2 linked regions of the Homo sapiens genome follow. The protein of the gene in region 1 interacts with the protein of each later gene in a biochemical or structural test. Each region holds a gene or a part of one and is shown on either strand. Other genes may lie near its edges. The genes, in order: GPC1 and SLIT2.

The links.
Region 2: the proteins of GPC1 (region 1) and SLIT2 form a complex in vitro, tested with the Homo sapiens proteins (one study listed by BioGRID).

Annotation. Positions count from the first base shown.
Region 1 is NC_000002.12:240,459,628-240,463,530, forward strand, and holds part of GPC1 (glypican-1 precursor), read left to right. Parts: intron 1-2,563; coding exon 2,564-2,955; intron 2,956-3,719; coding exon 3,720-3,885; intron 3,886-3,903. UniProt on the Homo sapiens protein: Cell surface proteoglycan that bears heparan sulfate. Binds, via the heparan sulfate side chains, alpha-4 (V) collagen and participates in Schwann cell myelination.
Region 2 is NC_000004.12:20,249,729-20,253,631, forward strand, and holds the start of SLIT2 (slit homolog 2 protein isoform 1 precursor), read left to right. Parts: upstream 1-2,176; 5' UTR 2,177-3,903. UniProt on the Homo sapiens protein: Thought to act as molecular guidance cue in cellular migration, and function appears to be mediated by interaction with roundabout homolog receptors.

The sequences.
Region 1 (3,903 bases):
GGGACAGGGCTGCAGAGTGCAGGGCCTGCCTGGGGTGGCCGCCACTCAGCCCTTTATATCGGGGCAGGAGTCTGGGGGCCGCGGGGAGTGACCCCTGCAGGCCTTGAGGCCCCGCCAGCTGCTGCATTAGAGCCACGTACTCCTCGGCCCAGGCTGGGCCTCGCCTTGTGTCTGGGCAGAGAGTGGCAGCCACCCCCAGGGGGACAGTGTGGGGTCAGGAGGTCCTCCATGAAGTGACCTCTGATCAGAAACACGAGGACTTGGTGGAGGGAGGCGGCCCGGGCTGAGGTACTGCCCCTGTGTCCGGGCGGAGCCAGGGCGCCGGGACAGTGAGCCTGGGCAGACAGGAGGGAGGGAGCGCTGAGGCTGCAGGGCTCCATTGTGGCTGTGAGGGACGGCAGCTGCTGCTGGGGCCCTGGGGTTTGTCTCAGCGTTCCTGCTTCTCCGGCTCCTGGACACCTGCTGTGGCCTCCCAGGCTCCCGGGAGAGTCTGCCTGTCCCCAGGAGCCCCCAAGGCCATTTCCACAGGGCTGTGGGACCTCAGCTGTTGGCGTACACCTGGGTAGCAGTGGGTCAGAAGCTCCCTCTCTGTGACTTGGACATCGATGCTCAGAGCTCAGCCCTCCCCGCTGGTGTGGGGCCCGTGGGATGCGCGTGGCCCCTCTGGGACTCTCCTTCCTCCTGCCCAGCTGGACCCGGGGAGCGAGCCCCTGCACCCTGAGTCAGGAGCCTTCCTGAGCCACTTGGTTCTGTCCCATGTGTAGGGACCCGGCTCACCTCCTCCACTCTATCCTGGGCCTCAGTTTCTCCCCAGCGCCGCTGAGCCCTGGCTCCCGCCCCAGCGTGCCACCCAGCCCTGCCCCTTCCCCTCTCCTGCTAATACCCTTGCCCATCACACCATCCTCCTGGCCTGGGGACATCCTGCCCGCCTGCTTCCTCCTGGCTCTTAGGGGGTTGGTGTCGCTGCCCTGCTCTGGGGCCTGTCCCGTGTCAGTGCCCTGCCGCCGCCCTCCCTCTGCTGCCCTCTGGAAGCCTCCAGCCTTCCTGTTCAACTCTCCTATCTTTGACCTGAAAACACAGACACCCTTTGGGGACATTTGTATTAAAAATGACCCACTATGTGATGTGCCCAAGGCCCACCTGTGCCCCTACCCCAGGGAGTCTTGTCCAACCCCCACCTCCTATGTCCTCCCCTCCCACCCCTGCCCATGGCAGCTGCTGTCCCCTCCCAGCCTCCGGGGCAGCTGAGGGCCCCTGGGTCTTTGTCTGCAGTGCTGGTGGGAACCAGTGGGAGGCGGTAGGAGGGGAGCCTGGCTGGACCTCTGGTTGCTGTGTTCAGGGATTTGGAGCCCTGTGTCCGCCCCCCCACCAGCCTTCAGGAGCAGCTGAATGGGTTCTGGCAGGAGGTAGAGCTGGGGACTGCACCTGGATTTGGCCCATGGCCCTCTAGGTGTGTCTGGGCTAATGCATGAACCACAAGCCGCCCCTTTCCGGGACAGGCCAGGGCGTTCCAGGCGCCAGGACCCAAGGTGGACACTGGACAGCTGTGTGGCCCGTCCACCCTCCCCACAGCGGCCTGGGAGCTCTCTGTAGCCCTGCCAGCCCTGAAGCCCCAGGCCTTGCCAGGGGTCAGCGTGGGGGCTGATCCAGAGATCTCAGGCTTGACGGCCCCCGTGCCTCAAAGGAGAGCCTCTGCCCTGCTACCCTGGAGCACCTTGTGGTGGGCCATCGAGCCCCCGGTACCTGTGGGGCAAAGCCGGCCACAGCCCTAGGGACGCTCTGAGCAGTTACAGACCTGGAAGTCCCACTTCCAAATGGGATGGGGAAGTCCAGGGTCCCATCTAGGCCCGGGGTACGGGGGCTTTTCCCTAAAGCCCCTGCAGCACATGTGGAGGTCTGAGGGTGAGCCTGTGCCTCCACACCCCCTGCCCAGCAGGGGAGATGTCTGGGGTTCTAGGCTGCAGGAGGCCCCCCAGAGCCCTCAGACAGGCCCGGGGTGCTCACAGCTGAAGCTTCTAAATCGCAGAAGCTGAGAGAAGACAAGAAGCCTAGGAGAGCAGCCGAGACAGGGTGGCGGGAGGGGCAGCAGCCCTGGAGACTCGCAGGGCAGGCGGCTGGGGCCACGGGGAGCACAAGTGGGGACCAGTGGAGAGAAGGAGCGGCTGGCAGGGGGGCACAGACCGGCCCTGCCCCTCTTACCCCAGTGAGTCCCCATCTCCACCAGCAGCCCCTCCCTGGGTGTTCTCAGGGGGTCACTGAGTCACAGAGCATCTGTTCTGCCCAGGGCTCAGCTCAGAAACTGCCACTGGAGCCCCAGTCAGAGGCCCTGAGACCCGAGAGGACCCCCTGCCACCTGGGCCCCTGCTCCCCAGGCCAGGGGGTGAGGTCTCGGGGCGCCCCATGGATGCCCACAGGGCCCACAGCCGCTGCAGTGTGGCGTCCGACTCCGAGGTCCTCAGAGTGTATCCTCAGAGCTGAGTCTCCCGGGCTGAGTCCCCTGCTCTGGTCCAGCTGCCACGGCGGGGGAAACATGGTCCCGATCACGCCCCCTCCCTGTGCGCAGACCACTTCCAGCACCTGCTGAACGACTCGGAGCGGACGCTGCAGGCCACCTTCCCCGGCGCCTTCGGAGAGCTGTACACGCAGAACGCGAGGGCCTTCCGGGACCTGTACTCAGAGCTGCGCCTGTACTACCGCGGTGCCAACCTGCACCTGGAGGAGACGCTGGCCGAGTTCTGGGCCCGCCTGCTCGAGCGCCTCTTCAAGCAGCTGCACCCCCAGCTGCTGCTGCCTGATGACTACCTGGACTGCCTGGGCAAGCAGGCCGAGGCGCTGCGGCCCTTCGGGGAGGCCCCGAGAGAGCTGCGCCTGCGGGCCACCCGTGCCTTCGTGGCTGCTCGCTCCTTTGTGCAGGGCCTGGGCGTGGCCAGCGACGTGGTCCGGAAAGTGGCTCAGGTGCGCACAGCCACCCAGGGCTCTCAGAAACCCCTCCAGACCCCCATGCTCTGCCCAAGGGACTTCCTCTTCCCCCTACTTTAACCCTGTGCCCCTGGGCCTCTGGGCCAGCCTCTGACCTCAGCCCCACAGCCTCAGTCCCTCCTGCATTGGCTGCTGCCCATGGCCTGCTAACAGCGTACCCACAGATGTGAGCCTTGCTCTGGGCAGGCGGCTCTGGGCTGGCCCATCCCTGCCCAGAACCATCATGGGCCAGGATGGGAAGGGCCAGGGGCTGGGGCTGGACGCTGAGCCAGGCTGTGGAGTGAAAGTGCAGAGGAGACAGAAGAGAACAACATGCGTGGGGGCCGGGCAGGGTGGGGCCCCAGAGCCTCGCAGGCCAGGGGGATGCCTTGGTCCCTTGCGGGGCACGTGTCAGACCCAGCTAAGCTGGGACATAGGGAGGGCGTCAGCCTCAGACCCACATGCCCTGGGTGGGAACTGCCCCCACCTCCAGGCTCCTGGGCAAGTCATGCCTTGGTTTCCTCAGCGGCATGCGGGTGAGGATATTCTTGCCTCCCTGTGACCCTCGAGATCATTAAAATGAGGGCCGTCTGGGCTGGCAGGCCCTGCGAGTCAGGCAGCGACCACCACGAGCTGGGGCAGAGCAGAGGCCTCCCCTGACTTCCCTCCAGAGCCCCCTACCCTGGGGCTTCGTTAGGGGCTGGCCGGGGCCAGGCACCCCCAGGGCCTCGGGGCCTGGCTTAGGGTCCCTTGCTCCCCAGGTCCCCCTGGGCCCGGAGTGCTCGAGAGCTGTCATGAAGCTGGTCTACTGTGCTCACTGCCTGGGAGTCCCCGGCGCCAGGCCCTGCCCTGACTATTGCCGAAATGTGCTCAAGGGCTGCCTTGCCAACCAGGCCGACCTGGACGCCGAGTGGAGGAACCTCCTGGGTGAGCCCCCACCCGCGA
Region 2 (3,903 bases), on another chromosome or scaffold:
TACTAATGGAATAATACAGTAATATGTTAAAGGACAGGAGACCTGGTTGTTTATGTATGTATAAAATTCCCCTTATCAACTAAAAAGTTAATAACGCAAAAAATAGTAAGATATGCCTCTCAAGAATTAATTACAGTCTTTCTTTTTTCTGAATGAAATCCACTGAACATAGCTTCTTATTTAAATTGGCTTCAAATTTTAAAAAGATGTTTCTGTAGGCATGTTGCTATGTATGTTAGTTTCTCCTTGGTTTTACACAAAACAGAAAGTGATCAGAGATAGAATGAAACTTGAACTTATGTCTGTGAATTTCACTTATGCAACAATATCAATAATATTATTTATAAATATTTGGAATGCAGGATATGTTCTTGGAATTAAAATATGGAACAACAATTCTATGTGGTGCACAAAGTTGAACACAAACACCTCTTGTTGCTGACAAGATATTAAAGTTGTGAAATTAAATAAATTAATGTATCAGCAACCATATTTAACCACATAATTTACTGGTACACACTAAGGAAAATTCACTGAGGGTTGGGGGAGCTCCTTCCTCAATGACAGGTACTTGTTCTTTATCTCATTTTCCTTACAAGAAAATGTGACAAGGGCTTCTTTTTTCTCCTCCTCAAGGAAGTTACATAACAGACCTTTAAGCTAAAATCTAGAAGGACAAATGAGTTAATAAATGTCAAATGTTTTTGAAGGTTTTAAAAGAATAGAGCAATATAAATCTGTGGCATTAAAATGAGTAATCCTAAGAGTTCCAATTCAGTTATCAGATGGTACCCTGCCTTTGGGCGTGTCCTCGAAAAGGCTTACGTTTTCCAAGGCAGGCAAAATGAGGTAAGTAGGGGTAGCCATTATGAAAGGACATCTTAGAAAATGTTAACCAGGAAAAACGTTAATGAGGATATTGCAGAGATTTTAGGTTGAGCATACTCTTGAGTTAAAGAAATCGGTTACTTATGAGGAAACCTATTATGTGGCAGGCATAGATGCTGGAAATACAAAGAGTTGGACAGGTCTTGCTTTCAAGGAAGCTTCTAATAATTATACAAATAACTACTACAATATGAGGCTGGTATTAGGCGGGGGCTTGCACAAATTCCAGGGAAAGCTTCTTAACGTGGAAATGGGAGGAAGAACAACAATATGATGCATATTAAATCCAAGAGAAGGAGCAGAGTCATTTAGATGTCATTTCAAACTTACAGTGACATTGGCTCTTGCTGGGGGGGAAAGGGGGGCGAGAGAGGCAGCCGTTGCCAGACATACGTCACACTAAAGAGACAAGATGAAACAAGGAAATTCTCTTTCAAAACATAGCGGGGAAAAAAATATCCAGAACTGCCCTGAAATAAAGAAAACCTTCTGGTATAATGTGCGTTGCTAGGGATTTATTTTTTCCCCTCCTTTCTCTCATAAGAGAGTAAAAAATCACACAGATACGTTCAAGCCCTTAAGAGTTTTGTGAGCCTATTGAATATCCAAGACATCAACTGACCACGGTGTGGTTCAGTGTGTGTCTACAAAGGAAGGGTTAAACGGAAGGGGGTGGCTTGGAGATAGAAAGGCAAGCAAGAAGGTTGGAAAATGCTGTTTTCCAACTTGCAAAAACTGAACTTTTCAGCTCCCCAAAATACACGTGTGTGTCTGTAAGCGCAGGCAGATCTATTTCGGTAGGATTTTTCTTAAATTTAAATCATAATTTCTCTGTTTCTGTCTCTCTGTCTCTTGCTGCGCTGCAAAGAGTGAGCAGCCCCCTTAAGGATCGCGTGGCAAAAGCTGCAGGAGAGGCACTGGCAGGGCTGTTTATTTATGAGCCGCGTTCAAAGCCGACCTCTTCCCATTCTCCCACTGCAAACGACTATCTCCGAGCCCAGGTCACCTCTGGGGCCAAGGAGTTGGGGGCTGGGGCTCGGGTGGCTCCTTCTTCGGGCCAAGTTTGCCCGCGCGTGGGAGCGAGGGGGCGAGCCAGGGCGCACGGGAACGCGCGCCGCCAGCCGCCGCCTCCGCCCAGCGCTGGCAGCCCCGGCCTCACCTCTCCCCTCTCCCCAGCGAGGTGCGGGCTCCCAGAGCGGAGCCAGGGGGCGGGCCTGGGCCTCGAGGGGCGGGGTCAGGGGGCGGAGGCTCGGGCGGCTATATAAGGCCCGCGCCGGCTCAACTTCGGACTTGGTGTTATTTATTTGGGAAGCGCCCGGACGGCGGAGCTTGGCGGCGGCGGTGGTGGTGGCTGCCGCAGACTGTGGTTAAAAAAAAGAAGGCGGCGGCGGCGGCGGCGGCGGAGGCGGAGGCAGCTGCGAGGCATGGGAGCGCCGAAGCGCCCAGGCGCAGGCCGAAGCTGCCGCGCTTTCTGGGCACGGCGGGAGTGCTGAGCAGAAAGGGGAGCGCCGGGGGCCCGCAGCCGGCTCCGGAGGCGCGGGCCGGGTTTTTGTTTGGCTACGCTGAGCGCCAGTCAGCCCCAGCGAACAACTCCAGTTACGACAACAACCCACCTTCCTTCCAGACAAGCGAGACTTGGGCTGCTGCGTCCGTCCTATTGTTTAGACACTTGCCAGGGGCTCCGGAGTCGGCAGAGCCACCGAGTCCCCGCTCTGAGTCGTCGCCCTCCCTCTCCCCGACCTCGCTCCCTGGAGCGGGAGGCCAGGAAAGCAGCGGGAGAGGGGAAGGGGCTAGAAGGAGAAGGACTACCCGGGACTGCGGCCGCCGCGTCAGGTGCAGCGCCAGGAGCCGGGCGGCGTCGCCACGCCGGCAGGGGTACCGCCACTGTGGCCTTGGGGGACGGAATTCAAAGCCTGGGAAAAGTTGCTGCACTTTGAGAAGGACGAACCACTAGTGGGAGACCGCCGGGGGCCGGCCGTGGCTCTGCGCCCTCCGGAACCCGGCTCTTGTTTCTTCTACCTTTGCCATCAGGTGTCTGCCGCGGAGCTGCGGCTTATCTGGGAGACGAGCGGGGTTGACACGCGCGCACACACTACTGCCATTCAGCTGCCGCCTGGCTCTGCCTGGAGTAGTGGATCCCACCCGCCCACCTGCCACCGAGCCATTCTCCAGTACGCCCCAGCAGGACGCTGACACCTCCAACCTTGGCCTTTGCCTTTCCACTCCTTCCGGTCTGCCTGGTTTTTAAGTCCGCCCCCAGTCAGTCCCCACTCAGTCTTCGCAGCAGCTCTCATCCTCCACTTGGCCTCTTGGAGTTCCTCGCCGGAGTGCTGACTAGTGGATATTTCTGCCCGGCTGCGGCGGCCCGACTGCCCTTTTGTCTTTTCTGCGTGACCTCGGGGCAGGTCCTGGTGCAGAGCGTCGCCAAGGACGCCGAGCGGGAGGCGGGATTGCCCAGACATCCTTCAGCGAAGTGCATGTGTGTTTGTAAACCATCGTTGGCTGTCGGGAGACCGCGAGGACCGGTCCAGGCTGCGGCGGAGTCGAGGGCGAGGGAGAGGCCGCGTGAGTGAGCAGAGTCCAGAGCCGTGCGCCCCCAGAACTGCGCGTCCGCCCCGTGCACCCCCGCGCGCCATGCCCAGTTGCCCCGCGCGCTCTGCTACGGGCCCGCTGGGCTTCCGCGCCTTCTAGCTTCCGGAGCCCACTTTGATCGGGGCCATAATACCTATTGAGATCCCCTCTTCTGTCTTGTACCTTCGCCACTGGCATCGGATTTGCAGAAGCGTGCGTGGGATCAGAGGACCGCCCTCCCCACAACAACCGGCCCCTGCATCTTAGCAGCCGTTGGAAGCCCCAGCTCTTTTACCGCCAAGTTCATCCTTGGGAGACAGAAGACGCGTGATCTCCTCTCCGCTGCTCTTGGGGTCTCCTTGCAGCCCTGGCCAGGCGGATTCATCCTCAGGACCTAAAGTTGCCCAAGGAGCTCCTGCTCTGCCAGAGGAGGGTGGAGAGGGC